Linked DNA regions of Homo sapiens. The protein of the gene in region 2 interacts with the protein of the main gene of each other region in a pairwise test. Each region holds a gene or a part of one and is shown on either strand. Other genes may lie near its edges.

Region 1 (7,543 bases), on a different chromosome or scaffold from region 2:
GTTCACCATCAGTACACAAGGGCCCATTGAGGGCGAGAGAGGTGAAATGGGGGGATTATGGACCAAGGGCAAAAGAGGGAAGCAAAGTCTTGAGGGAAGTGGACTGTTCCAGCCCCTCAGAGAGAAGCTGAAGAACATTTTTTTTCACGGACAGGGTGATGAATCACCTTTCCAGAGCCTATGCACTGCCAGTCCTCTGACAATGTTTGTTAAATGAAGGGTCAAACGGGCAAAGGCAGAACAGCTGCCTGGATATGAACAATCCCAGCATGGACTTTCCCTCTCATTCCTCGGGTGCTCCTCATCAGGCTCGAGGGTATGTGTCACCTCCAGTCCCGAGTCACTGTACTGACCTCCCACCGACTGCCCACTACACCTCATAAACCCCAAGTCCATGGATGAAGGGAAACCCCATGCAGAAGTGTACCCTGGTGCTCACCCCCATGGCAGAGCCCACTGGACAAATCCTGTACGTAACAACAGAAGAAGAGCAGAGCACAAAACCCTCACAGAGGCAGGCCCCCGGAGCACTGGAGGAAATCTTGCCTTCCTCCCACACACCATCACTCAAACCTGTCAGCTTCCAAAAATGTTTAGCAAGTGCAGCAGCAAGGGGCATGCTTATCAGCCTGGTGTGGGAGCTTAATCTGCTTTGAGGGCCTTCTCCAGCCCAGAGTTCCAAAAGTCTGCTTACAATTAGCTTCAGCTCCAGTTCCCGCATCAGAAAGCCTAGGAACGTGTTGAGCTCTAGCCTCTGATCAGAGAAAGCTCCAGGAGAAGGTGGAGATGGTGTCAGCAGGGAAGTATGTGCCAAAAAGGTCAGCTGGTCTGTTGCCATTTTCCTGACACCAGCCCCAAACCACCTCCCCTCTGGCTTCCCGCCTCTCCTAACCGGACAGTCACATCCGTCAGGTCGGCCTGTCCCCAAAAGTCCCTGCTGACTGACTGCCAAGAAAATATAGCCCCCTCCTACCAGAAGAAGGGGGAAATGGAGCGGGGAGGACCAAGAGAACCTGATTGGCCCTTGCTAATTTCTGTAAAAGAGATTGCACGGCCAGGGCTTGTCTGGATGCAGGCTCTGTCTGGAAAGGTAGGAGTCACCAATTCTCTTCAAGCCATCTCCCATCCCCACGCCCCGTCACTCGGGCTACCAACACCAGGATCTACCACCCAGGAAGGAGGGGCTTAGCTTCGGCCGCCATTCTGAGGCAGCCACCTCCACCCCCACCCCCACCGCAACAGCCAGCCAAGGCGCTAGGAGTCTCCAGCTGCCGGCCTCAGCTGGTGCACTAGTACCGCAGTCCCAGCACCTTGCCCGGAATCCCGTCACCCCGCAGGATGGGGCAGGGACAGGTCATCTTCAAGCCAAGGGAAGAGCAGGTTCACTGCCACCCGCGATCCCCTTTTCTTCCTGGATCTTACAGCCAGGCTAGGGGGCGTCGAACCCAATGGGGCCTTAGATCATTCCTTGTCCGGAACAGAATCTCTGCGGAACCGCCAGACAGACACACAGCTGCTGCTGCGGATACTGGCTTCTTGGGGCCAAGACCTCAACATGCAGGACCTCACATTTCCAGCGATGCACACGTTTTTTGAGAACATCCCGACCTTTCCTCCTCCCCAGGAAGATGCTGCAGACGTGCCCGCCATCCCAGGTCTCGAAGAGCTCTTAAGGCAAACCTCCGGCACCCGGGCCACACCCACCGGCCGGCCCACTCTCCTCGCGCATCCCCCAACCTGCCGGCCTAAGGGGAATGGTTCCCTTCCCTGGCCACATGGTAGACCCTTCTCCCATCCAGCCCTTTCTCCCACACCATCCCGAAAGAACTATTCATCCATCCTTCCAGAACAGTACCCCGGCAAACGGCATCTCTCACCTGGGTATCGAACCCGTTTTCCACCGAGCCGCTCTTCCGCAGCGGGAGCCCCTCCCCCGCTGGCTCCTGCAGCCCCTGCAGCACCTGCGATTTCAGGGGGATCTGGCTAGGATAGGTGGTCTTGCTCACCTCCACCTTGCTTCCCAACTTCAGGTAGCAGGGCTGGGGGCCCGCCCGGGCCGGGGGCACGTGCAGGATGGGCGCGGCGCTGTGCACGGGTTTGGGCAGTCCCGACTTCATTTTGGAGGCGACCAGGATGGCCGGCATCTTCTCCCGGGGCTTGGGCTTTCCCAGCACGTCCCTGGCAGCGGCGGCGGGGGCGACCGCTAAAGGCAGCGCGGGTAGCAGAGCAGGCGCCGGGCCTTAGCCCACGAGGCGCCCACCACCAGCGGCTAAAAAAAAAATCCCCAGGTCGGGGAACTCGAAGCAATCGGGCGAGCGCGCCTTTGGGGTGCCGGGATGGGAATGGGGGACTGGCCACGGCGCTCAGCGGGTCCCACCTGGACGGATGCTGCCGCCGGGTCTCACACCTCTCCTGGGTGGCCTTTCAAGAGCTCTGGGCGCTCAGGGGCTGCCGCCTCTTGCAAATTTCCTCCTGGGAAACAGAGGCTTGGACGCCCATATTAACTTGTCACTGCATCTCCGAAGTGAGGAGGCCCCTTTGGAAGAGACAGAGGCGGCGGCGACCCACGAGTCCCGTTCCGGAGGCTACGGGTCTGAGCCGGCGAGAGAAAGAGCGAGCAGCCAAGGAAGGAAAGGAGACAGCAGCGAAGGAAGGAGAGAAGAAGGGCGCAAGGGTCCCAAGACGTCTCCACCGAGAGGCAGCTGCCACCCTGCTCGCGAGCACCGCAGTGTCACCCGCGACGCAGCAGAGGTGCGGCAAGAGCCCCCGAAAGGTCTCTCTTGGGGTGACAGTCACCGCTGCCCAGAAGGCCCCCGGACTGAGAGCACCTTAGCGCCTGCGGGTCTGCACATGCTCCGTGAGCTAGATAGAGGCAAGGCTGTGGCCGTGGGGCGCGGGCGCCGGGACGCGCGGCTGGCGGGCCGGGCAGGGCTGCGCTCGGGAGCGGCCGCCGCGCTTCCCGGGAAGGCTGCGCTGGCTGCGGGGCTCAGCGCAGGGGAGGACAGGCTGCTGCCGGCGCTGCTGCGGCGCGCGCTGACAGCCGGGGCCGCCCCGGCGCGCCCATTGGTCCACGGTGCGCCAATCAGCGGCCGCGGGTCTCACTGCAAAGAGGGTGTGGCCTAAACTCTGGCCGCCGCCGAAACTCTGGGGCCGCGCTTGGCCGCGAGTACAAAGCGGGCTGGTGGCCGCTTTGCGGCACTGCCCCGGCCGCGCGCCTCCCGGGGGGCCCACACCCCTGCGTTCCTGAAACCCTTCTTTTGAAAAATGCCCTTTCGAACGCAACCGTCCGCCCCAGAGCCACGCGGGCACGGCTCGAGGGAAGTTTGTTTCCTTTTTCAAATTGCTCCGGTCACCTTAACGGTTTGAGTCTTCCGGAGTCACGCCCGCAGCCTCGCTGCCCCCATCTGGCTTGGGCAGGGCCGAAGCTCGTCTCCCGCTTTAAGAGCGCGCCAGCCATTTCTCTGCCTGCTCTTCCAGGCCGGCTGGGCGGGGGGCCTCCCAACGGCTTCCTCTCCAGTTTTCAAAGGCTGCACATTTCACTTAACTATTTGAAGTATTTATAGGCAAATACAATACGCAGGGAAGCTTCCCGCCCCGAGACAGCTCCTCCACGCAACCTACCACAGACTCTGTAATTAGAGTGGCCTGAAGAAGCCGGGAGAGGCTCCATGACCCCGGCAGGCTCTGGCCAAACCTTGCTGCGTTTCATGGAGCCCCTCCCTGTCCGCGCCTGGGACGCACTGGCCCCAACAGGTTCCTCGACTCGAATTCGCTGTTTGGGTTGCTCTGTGGTTTCCTCGCTGACTGAAAGTGGATGAGAATAAGAAGGAAACTGAGAGATGATCAGGCAGGCCAGCCTTCGCGATTTATGAATGAGGAGCCTCCCACCCTGTAGAACTGCTTGGATTAGAAGTGGGCAAGTTATTTAAGCTTACATGCATGCTTATAAAGCTTCTGTTTTCACATGTAGTAAGGTGGAGGCTTGACGACATTTACCTAATGAGCTGTTGTTTGGATTAAATGAGATGGTTGGTGCATGGCAGTCATTTAGCACAAGTACCTGGCAATGTAAGAGACCAATAAAAGCTGGGCTTTATTTTCCCTGTTGTTAAATTACTGCTGCTTTCCCCCAAAGTCATCTCTGTTTATAAACTATTTGTCTTTCTTCTTTGTTTCCAGGACACTTTGTGCCCACCCTATAGCCTGATCTTCAGTGCTGATAGCATTGATTTAGAATAACTCAGATGCTATTAACTCTGTCCCCCTGGAATTCATGTTAAACCCGTAATCCCCAGTGTGATGGTATTAGGAGGTGGGGAACTTTAGGAGGTAATAAGGTCAAGACAGTGGAGCCCTCATGATAGGATTAGCACTCTTATTAGAAGAGACAGGAGAGAGATGCTTTCTTACTGCCTTGTGAGGACACAGAAGGCAGTCTTCTGTGGACCAGGAAGAGGGCCCTTACCAAGAATCTGATACCGTGTTGGCATCCTAGTCTCAGACTTCCAGCCTCTAGTACTGTAAGAAATAAATGTTTGTTGTTTAAGCCATCCTGTTTATGGTATTTTTGTTATAGTGGCCCAAAGTGACAAAGATCTCAGACCAGAGGAAACATCAAAGTCTTAACCTCTGAAGCATTAAGAAATGAGAAGGCACCTTCTTAGCCATTCTAGGTAGCAACTTTCTACTCTAGTTAGGCTGAAATGCACGGCCCTGTCTATGTCTGTTTCAGTTATCCTCCCTCTCTCTGAAATCAAGTCACACATCATTCATGCTACTTACTTAACACTTTGCCCTTTGCCATCTGATGCCACCTCCCGTACTATTGTCTCCCATTATTTAACCTGTTATTTATTGTTTCATGCATTCATTTTCATCTTAGAGAATAAACATCTTGGAATTAGGAGCTGTGTTTTAACTTTCTTTAGATCTTCTCAGTATGGAGCATAAAGCTGTGGACAGAATAGCTACCCAACATTTATACTGAATGAATGATTGAATGATGCTAGAAGAAGGAGAGATTGTCTTTTAGATTTAGGAACATAAGGACATACGAAATATTATGCTATAAACCTTGGGACTCTTTTGCCTGCCCTGAATTCTAGTTCTGACCAGTGTACCAAGATTTGTGGAAAGATATCACAATCTTCAGCTTCTAAAGATCAGGGAGATATTCCAAAGTATTCCCATGGCCCTAATGCAGTGGTTCTCAAAGTGTGGTCCCTGGAGCTGCAGAAGCATTACCTGGAAACTTGTTTGAAAGCTCCACCCAGACCTATTGAATCAAAAGCCCTGGGGATGGGGCCCAGCAATCTGTGTTTCAACAGTGTTCAACCTAGTGATTATGATGCATACTAAAACTTGAGATATTCTGCCCTAATGAATATATCATGCATTCAGTGCATCTCCAGAACTTCTTAAACCTTAATATGCCTAAGAATCACTGGGGATCTTGCTAAAATACAGATTCAGATTCAGTTGGTCTAGAATGGGGCTGAGATTCTGCTTTCCGAGTAAGTTCTCATGTCATGCACATGCTGGTGTTCTAAAGATCACGCTTTGAGTAGCACAGACAGCAGGAGGATTTCATCTTAAGGGCCATCTACTGAAAAGGATCTCAGAGTGCATCCATCTAGTTGGAAATAGCCGCCTGATCACTTGATAATGTCTGCTATGGGTATATAAATGGAAATAGTGAAATACATATTATGTATTTGCCATCTTTGGTTTCCTGTTTAAATTGTATTTACTGCCAAGGTCATTTCGGGGTTCTGAGACCCTCAAATATGCATAAATATGAACAACAGTATTTCTTTTAAAGTATTTCTAATGTTCTAGGATTGGTAAACATGAGCATTTCCCTTAACCCTGTGTGTTTTATATAACTAAATTCTGATAATTCTTCATTTTTCTTGATGAAAGATCTTTCACTTGAGGACAAGTGAATCTTTTAGTCTGTTTCCAAATTTCTTTCTTTTCCTGCCTCTTCTTCCCTTTAGTAATTCTATTTGCTTTTTCCTGGAGCATTATTTATCTCCTTTTTTTTTGTGACCGAGTTTTGCTCTAATTTCCCAGGCTGGAAGCTGGAGTGCAATGGCGCGATCTTGGCTCACTGCAGCTGGGATTACAGGCGCATGCCACCACACCCGGCTAATTTTTGTATTTTTAGTAGAGACGGGGTTTCGTCATATTGGTCAGGCTGGTCTGGAACTCCAGACCTCAAGTGATCCACCTGCCTTGGCCTCCCAAAGATTCATCTCCTTTTATATCTTTTTTTTTTTTTTTTTTTTTTTGAGACGGAGTCTCACTCTGCTGCCCAGGCTGGAGTGCAGTGGCACGATATTGGCTCACTACCCAGGAAGCTCCGCCTCCTGGGTACACCCCATTCTCCTGCCTCAGCCTCCTGAGTAGCTGGGACTACAGGCACCCGCCACCATGCCCAGCTAATTTTTTGTATTTTTAGTAGAGACGGGGTTCCACCATGTTAGCCAGGATGGTCTCGACCTCCTGACCTCGTGATTCGCCCGCCTTGGCCTCCCAAAGTGCTGGGATTACAGGCGTGAGCCACCGTGCCTGGCCCTATCTCCTTTTAGATATTTTCTATAAACGTTCATTTTTCTTATTTAAAGCAAAATAATTTATCATAATAACCAGACAAGGGTGGGGCGGGGGGAAGCTATTTTTTCTCCTAGGATAAATGAGATAATTATAAGTTTCTTACTTAAATAAGATAATCTCAAATTATAAAAACGGCCTATAAGTTTACTCCTTCCACACTGATACTGTGTTAACATGAAAAACGTCATTTTAAATCAATGTTTTGCAAGCATTGGAGGCTAACGCAAGTCACTGGTTTGGAGAATGGCAAGCTGCTCTGGAAAGAATACACTATCCAGGTATTAAAATAACTTTTTTCTTTTTTTCTTTTTTTTTTTTTTTTACTATATGCATTATGGACAAGTATGCCAAGTTGAAATGGCCCACCATTTTAAATTCCAACTTTGACAACCATTCTTTATTTTTCTTCTGGCTCAGAACTTGCAGAATCACCCAAATGTCAGTGATAGGCCAAATTGAAACGTATTATCAAAGCTCTCAGGTCCACTGAATCATCCTAAGAGACTGGATAGTTCCCTGGTTCTAAGAGCCATCCTCAGATCAGGAAGTGCCAGCTGCACCCCTCTCTGCTCCTCAACGTCAGCCACTTGTGATTAGTTGAGTGTGAATTGGGCTTCAGACCTGACCTGTGAGTGACCAGTTCCATCAACCCATCCTTCATCTTAGTTAAAGACCCCTGTTGGCCTGACCTCCCAAGAAGACAGTCCGGTGAAGAGCCTGGAACATCTAAGGCCCAGCCTGTCACAAAAAAATGCAGGGATCTTGGGGGGAAAAGTCTACAGCCTTTTGGAGACCCTAGATTATACATGATGAGGGGAAATGTTGCAAAGTTTCTTGAATAATATAAAAAGCAAAATATTTATGAGTTTATTTGGGAGTAAAAAAAATGCACTTTTCCTTAATTTTCTACAAATGGGTTGGCAAC
Region 2 (7,020 bases):
AGAGCCAGGAACTGGATGATGGTAAACTCAGAACCAATAAAAGGAAATTCTTCCCATGGCATTTTAAAGTTGTTCTGTGAGATTAAATCAAGCACACACAATTTGGTTTTGAGAGAAATTGAAAAACTGTCCACTGAATAAAATATGTGGTTATGTTTTATATTTTTATAAACTAAAAATAATAAAAACACTGAAAAATTTTGTTTCAAGTTACCATCTGAAATGGTTTGGCTGTGTCCCCACCCAAATCTCACCTTGAATTCCCACGTGTTGTGGGAGGAACCCGATGGGAGGTAATTGAATCACGGGGGCAGGTCTTTCCCATGCTATTCTCCTGATACAAACTAAGTCTCACGAGATCTGATGGTTTTAAAAAGAGGAGTTCCCCTACACAAGTTCTCTCCCTTTGCCTGCTGCCATCCACATAAGATGTGATTTGTTCCTCCTTGCCTTCCACCATGATTGTGAGGCCTCCCCAGCCATGTGGAACTGTAAGTCCAATTAAATCTCTTTCTTTTGTAAATTGCCCAGTCTTGGGTGTGTCTTTATCAGCAGCGTGAAAATGAACTAATACACCATCTAACTGTAGAATCAAATAAGATAAGAATGCTAAGTTGTACGTATCAAAAATATGTGAATTTTGTATACAGTATTTGATTAGCAATTTTCATGAACTTGTGAAGTGATCTCTCTCAGATGGTTATTAACATATATAAAATATTCAAACACTCTTTTGGACTCACTGGGCCATTGTAGGTCAATTATATACACTAGAGAAGGGGTCCTCCTTCCTCAAAGTATGTTGGTCTCTAGGTATACATATGGATAAGTGGACCAGATATTTCATAGTATGAATAGGCAGTCTATAAAATGGCAAACAGTCCCCAAAAATAATCCTAGCAAAGAAAAGCACCCGATTTTTGTCTAAAGACTTCAAGCTTTCCAGATTTTGGAAATTTTAATTAAATTCACTTTTTTAAAATTTTGCCATTAGAAGTGACTGGAAAAGCAGCTGGGATTCTTTTGCGAACAAAGGTTAGCAATTATCTCAGCTCATAACAATGAAGAGACCAAAATTAGCTGTTCATGTTATCCTCAGATTATTGCTAGAGGCTGAATCCCATTAGGCTCATGATCTGATAACAGAAATAGTCCATCTTTCAAAATGCCCCATTCATATTATCAAGGGAAAGAATTAATGGCATGAGTCTTTTTCCTTTAATTTTACCTTAGGGGCTAATACATTATTTTGACTTAAGTAGTCATCTCATCTCTTCTTTAACTTATTGCATTCTCATAAAGAATGGTTTCAAGTCTACCCATTCTGGGCTGTTTTAAAAGTTTTTCAGCGTCAGACCCTCAGACCCTATAGGGTTCAAATTAGTCGATGTTAAGGCCTCTCCATTTCTAAGATGTTTTAATTCAGTGGTTATTAATCCAGACCCCACAGTTAGACTTCAGAAAAATCCTGGAAACCTCTCCTATTTCTGGGATGCATGCAACACAAGATGTAAGATATGCAAATAAGTGTGTGCATGTGTATATTACCATCAGATTCTCAAAAGAGTTTGTGATATAAAAATGTTATGGTTCTCTGCCCAAATCTATGTATTATTCTTGCTAGGCCACTCTTTTTACATCCAGTATTCTAACATAACCAGAGTAGGGAATATGGATTTTTTTCAGAATTAAAGTGATAAACGTAAAGCTGCTCTGTTAAGCAGGTAGGCATACAATATACATCGGAGTATAAACTGTTATCTAAACTATCTAAATTGAAGAATTTGCAAGCACTCTTCAATGAGAGCAAGGAGAAGAATAGGAAATCTGTCTCAAAATATACATTGGACAGAAGTGAAAATCATGATTCCACAATCCTGTAAGTAGACCCTAGGTAGTATCAGTCTCTCTCCCAGCCATTCCATCCCACCTTCTCCAACAAGCAGTAACTATAATCTGAATTTTTTGCTGTTCACACGTGTGAATGGATTGCTAGATTTGAGCAACTGGTTTCTTGCAAAGCTAGTTACAGAGATAGACATCTGAGCTCACTTTGGAAACCATTTGCATAACCATATGATCAATAATCAGGTTTGCAATTTTACAAGAATGGAAGTCATCAAACTCTGCTTCTGGGCCTAAAGCAATCACTATAGGCTTGCACCTGCCTCTGATGTGTCAATGTACTCAGTAGAGCCAACACAGGCTCTCCAACTGAGGGCTCCAATTGCCAAGGCAAACCTGTGTTAGGAAGAAAGAGCTAGGGAACAGACATGTAACTTGGTGTTTACTTTGAGCTCCAACGCCTTCTGTTGGTTTTCCTGGGATAGCTGCTCACAGACCAAACTGTGCTGTTCATTCTCTTGCTGAAGTTTAGCATTTCTCATCTGAAATTGCTCGAGTTCCTTTGCAGCTCTCTCATTCAATATCTGAAAGGGATGGAATGAGCTGGTTAATGCTTTTTAATCTGATTACAATAGTTGGATATACACACAGGGGGCCCCACAAACCTCCTGGGAAGATAACAGCAACCCTGAGTTTTTGTCTTTGTAGAAATTGTTCTTTATTCCCGATGAAAGCACTAACGCACTCAAATATGATGAATGTTAAACGGTTGAGGAAAATGATGCCTTCTAATGAATAACACAGTGAGCATAATTTTTTTTCTGAGAGCCTTGGGAAGTCTTGTTCACAGGTGGTGGATAAATATTTTAATGCCTGTTTGCCATTTGGCAGGCTTCGCATATGCAACAATTGCTATAATCATTGCAAATGAGCTAGAGATTCAAACGGATTTTATAAGCTGTGGGGCTCGGAAGCTACATCTTCAGAAGCAAATCCTGCATTAACATGCCTACAACATTTTTGTCAACAGAACTGTTCACTAACACCAACACAGAGACAATTTTCTTTTAATCTAACTTAAGTCGAAACCGTGGAACAGCAGCAAAGTGATTTATATCTGCTTGAGTGCAGTGTCAGCCAGATTTTCCTCTTCCCTGCCTTGACTATCCTAAGCAGATATGGTTTTATAAAAACAAAGGATTATATCTTGGGGGCTCATTTCTATTGGGGGAATATTGAGGAGGTGGAGGGATAGCAAATGAATTGCAGGATAAAAATAGAAAGCCAGTTTAGGTAATGTCTCCAAAATATAACTTCCATGCACACAAAAATTAAGCATGAAAAGAATCCAGCTAATTCTCCATCAATAGGGACTAAATAAAATGTAACCAGTTATGCTAAAAATGAAATTGTGTTTCATAGGAGAATAGTTTTTATCCTGATGTCCAAAAGCCTCTCTTATGTTTCATGCTCAAAGAAGTCTCATGTTTTTCTGCTGGAGGCGGCACACTGTGAATTATCTATTTGACTTCTGACTTTATACAAAATTAATAGAGCAACGGACAAAAAAAAAGTATATTTATATCTATTTTTGAGTATAAAACTGCTATATGGCTTGACAATTCTTTGGAAACAAGCTTCCTGAGGAAAAACATATTTAAGAAAAGACTTTTCAATTATATGAATTGCTTCTTTAAGAAATGAGAGAAAACATAATACAATTACTAATACTTGTGTCACCCTAAACTGCTATAATAGAGGAAGTGTTAAAAACAGTACCATATTAAAAATACATAAAGACTGACCCTAGTTTGCTAAACTTGAAAATAACTTAAAAATAAACCTGTCGGCTGGGTGCGGTGGCTCATGCCTGTAATCCTAGCACCCTGGGAGGCCAAGACAGTTGGATTACTTGAGGTCAGGAGCTCGAGACCAGCCTGGCCAACATGGTGACACCCTGTCTCTACTAAAAATATAAAAATTAGCCAGGCATGGTGGCAGACTCCAGTTACTCGGGAGACTGAGGCAGGAGAATCGCTTCAACCCAGGAGGTGGAGGTTGCAGTGAGCTGAGATCATGCCACTGTGCTCCAGCCTGGGTGACAGAGAGACTCCATCTCAAAAAAAATAAAAATAAAAATAAAAATAAATAAATAAAAATAAAACTGTTAAAAATAAATTGTTATACTCACCCAGTGGAATACTGCACAGCAATGAGAGCTCATGCTCTACTGAGCTCTGTCCAATAGAGCTTTCTGCAGTGATGTAAATGTTCTCTGTCTGTGCTAATATGGCATCAACTAGCCATCTGTGGCTACTGAGTACTTGAAATGATGCTGGTACAACCAAGGAAATGAATTTTTAATTTAATTTCATTTTAATAAAGTTGAATTTAAATAGCCACTTGTTGCTAAGGGTTACCATATTGGGCATCACAAGTCTATAACTACATGGCAACAACATGAATATATCTCACAAACAGAATATAGCAGAAGTTAGACACAAAGAATATATCCTGTAATATTTTATTTCTGTAAAGTATAAAGACAGGCGAAACCAAACTCTGCTTAGAATTCAGGATAGAGATGGTATTTTAGGGGGAGAAGGACTAAGAGGGAGCACAAAAGGGCTTCTGGGGGTGCTGGTAATGTTCTGTTTCTCTGGCTGGGAGCAGGTGACCAAGATGCGGTTGAGTGGTGAAAATTCATCAAGCTGTCCACTTGTGACATATACACTTGTCTATATGTGTAGTATAGATCAATAGAAGGTTAAAAAGAAACTTATTAACCTGTTAGAGCTGGGAAATTTAAAAGGGGGGGCATAACTACCTCATAAGAGCCATTCAAAGACCAAATTGCAGTGCTAAGTTTTACATCATCAGCACGAGTAGTGAAGGGAATTTGCTGCTTTCCAAGAGAATTCAAAATGCACAAAAGGGTGAATAAAGGTGCCATTCTGGGTTTTTCTTGGTTTTTTGCGAAGACCCACACCCAACTCACCTTCTGCTCCTTCAGCTGCTGCTCCAGCTTCTGAAGCTCCTCCTTGCTCTTCTGCACATACTGCTGCAGGGCTTTTATTTCTGTCTGCCTGCTGTCCATGTCTGCCTGAATCTGCTTGAGCTCTTTCTCTAGTTTTTCCTTCTTCCGGAACTCCCGGGAAGCTTCGTTCTGACGTTGCTGGATTTCTTGTTGGAACTAGAGGTTGCGGAAAGGACAAGAGAGAAAGAGATGAGCCCTGACCATGGCAGGTCTCAGCCAGCCAAGCCCCCTCCTCTCTCAGGTCTGTGATTGTCAAGGCAGCACTTTGCAGTAGCATTTCCCCTATAGGGCAGACATCCTTGAGCCCCAGTGTTCAAACTTTTCAGGAATATTCTATACTGTTTCTTGGGGCCTTGAAATCAAATGACTACCCTGATGGTGGGCAACAAATCCACAAAGTGTGGTATAAAATCAAATACATATGGAAGCTCAGAGTTCTAGGGGCGTTAAACATGGAAAGAATTCATCCCGTTCTTTATCAATAGGGACTAAATAAAATGTGGCTAGCTACCCTAAGTATAAAATTGTGTTTTACATGACCCTGGATATTGCTAAAGAGAGCATTATAGGTTTATCTTGATGTCCAAATGCTATGAAAAGCCTTTTTCTTATCTCATGTTCAAAGAAGTCTCATGTTTTTCTCTTGGAGACTGCACATTGTGTATGACCTATTTGACTTCTGGCTTTATGTAAAAGTGTTCAGAAGAAGTCTGCTAAATGGCTTTCTAATAAAAATAAATAAATAAATAAGTAGGGCCAAAGAAACTACTTCCACCACCCCCAGATGTTGGGCCCCCTGGCCTTCATGGAGATCATCTTTTTGAGCCAGAATTGTAAGTAGGGAGTGCCCGCCTCAGTGACTTCTCAGACAGAGAATGCAGAGAAAGAACAATTCAAGTCGTTCAAATCAAGTAAAGCTCCTCTCAAGAGAACAAACTAAAGAAACAAGCAGAACTGAGGATGTTTCATTTGGGCGCTAGGGGGTAAATTTGAGAAAGGAGCAAGATGGGAATAGAGACTGTGGAGGGACAAACATCCTCTGGAAGGAAATATTCCTTCTTCTTGCCCTCCATGGCAGACCTGACTGATGGCATGTTCAGCCTCCTCTTTTGATCGCTCTGTTTCCTGCTGCTGTTCAGTGGTCTGAGCTAGGGATTCTCGTAATTTTACCACTTCTGATAAGAGCTGGTCTCTCTCCTTTGTCACTTCTTCTTTGAACCTCAGTAAATCTCGGATGCTAAAAAGGAAGAACACAGGAGTCAGACTAAATGGCCATCTGCTCAGGGGTCCTTCATATCATTCTCTGAGTTCATTTTCATGGGAAAGATGTCAGGTCAATGATTAACACTATTCAGACATTAAAGAGAAAGATCTTTATGCCATGATATGGGATCAGATTGTGAAATGTTAACTGGAAAGAAGTACTAATGATAACATGCATAGTATAATTTATTTTTTTATTTTTAAGAAAATACAATGTCTATTCATGCGTGTGAGAGTGTGTGTGTGTGTGTGTGTGTGTGTGTGTGTGTGTGTGTGTGTTTTACAGACATTTTTACAGAGCCCAGAAAAACATATCACTGATTATCTCTGAGAAATTTAGGGTGGAAAGTTGTGGGGGTTGATACTTTCCACACCTCTGTATTACTTGAATTTGTTATGATAAGACTATATTGCTATTGTCAACTCTGGTAATTAATCCTAAGCAGATGTCAATTTAGGAAACTATTTGTTTAATATATCCACTGGAGGGCTATGATCACAGCTATAAACTCTAGAATAAAGCATAAACAGAACAAAATAATATGCATTGCTAGTTTTCTATCAATTTACCCAAAAAGATTAGTTTCTCCCAAATGAATGCAGCCCAGATAAAATGTTACAAAGAACAAAATTGGGAAAATCATTCATGATGCCCATTTTTGGAGGTTATGTGATAATATTCATTGATTTGAATTGTAAACCAGTTACCTCCAAATTTCAAAAGCCATTCCATATGATTTGGCATGACTTCCTGCAGAATTAGCACTTTGCAATTGGAAGCTCAGTGTCTGATACGACCTCTGCAGCAGAATGAATGTAGAGCAAGGCAGCTCTTGGAGCTGAGAAGGCAGAGGAGAACTTGCACTGCAGACTCT

The links. Proteins that work in one complex are often made in the same cells at the same time.
Region 1: the proteins of CFAP58 (region 2) and NAV2 interact in binary tests that used the Homo sapiens proteins (3 or more experiments, as listed by UniProt).

Annotation. Positions count from the first base shown.
Region 1 is NC_000011.10:19,708,297-19,715,839, reverse strand, and holds the start of NAV2 (neuron navigator 2), read right to left. Parts: upstream 3,004-7,543; 5' UTR 2,145-3,003; coding exon 1,878-2,144; exon of another isoform or gene 1,168-1,877; intron 1-1,167. UniProt on the Homo sapiens protein: Possesses 3' to 5' helicase activity and exonuclease activity. Involved in neuronal development, specifically in the development of different sensory organs.
Region 2 is NC_000010.11:104,363,832-104,370,851, reverse strand, and holds part of CFAP58 (cilia- and flagella-associated protein 58), read right to left. Parts: intron 6,120-7,020; coding exon 5,963-6,119; intron 5,039-5,962; coding exon 4,844-5,038; intron 2,430-4,843; coding exon 2,292-2,429; intron 1-2,291. UniProt on the Homo sapiens protein: Has an essential role in the assembly and organization of the sperm flagellar axoneme. Required for the elongation of the primary cilium and sperm flagellar midpiece via modulation of the Notch signaling pathway.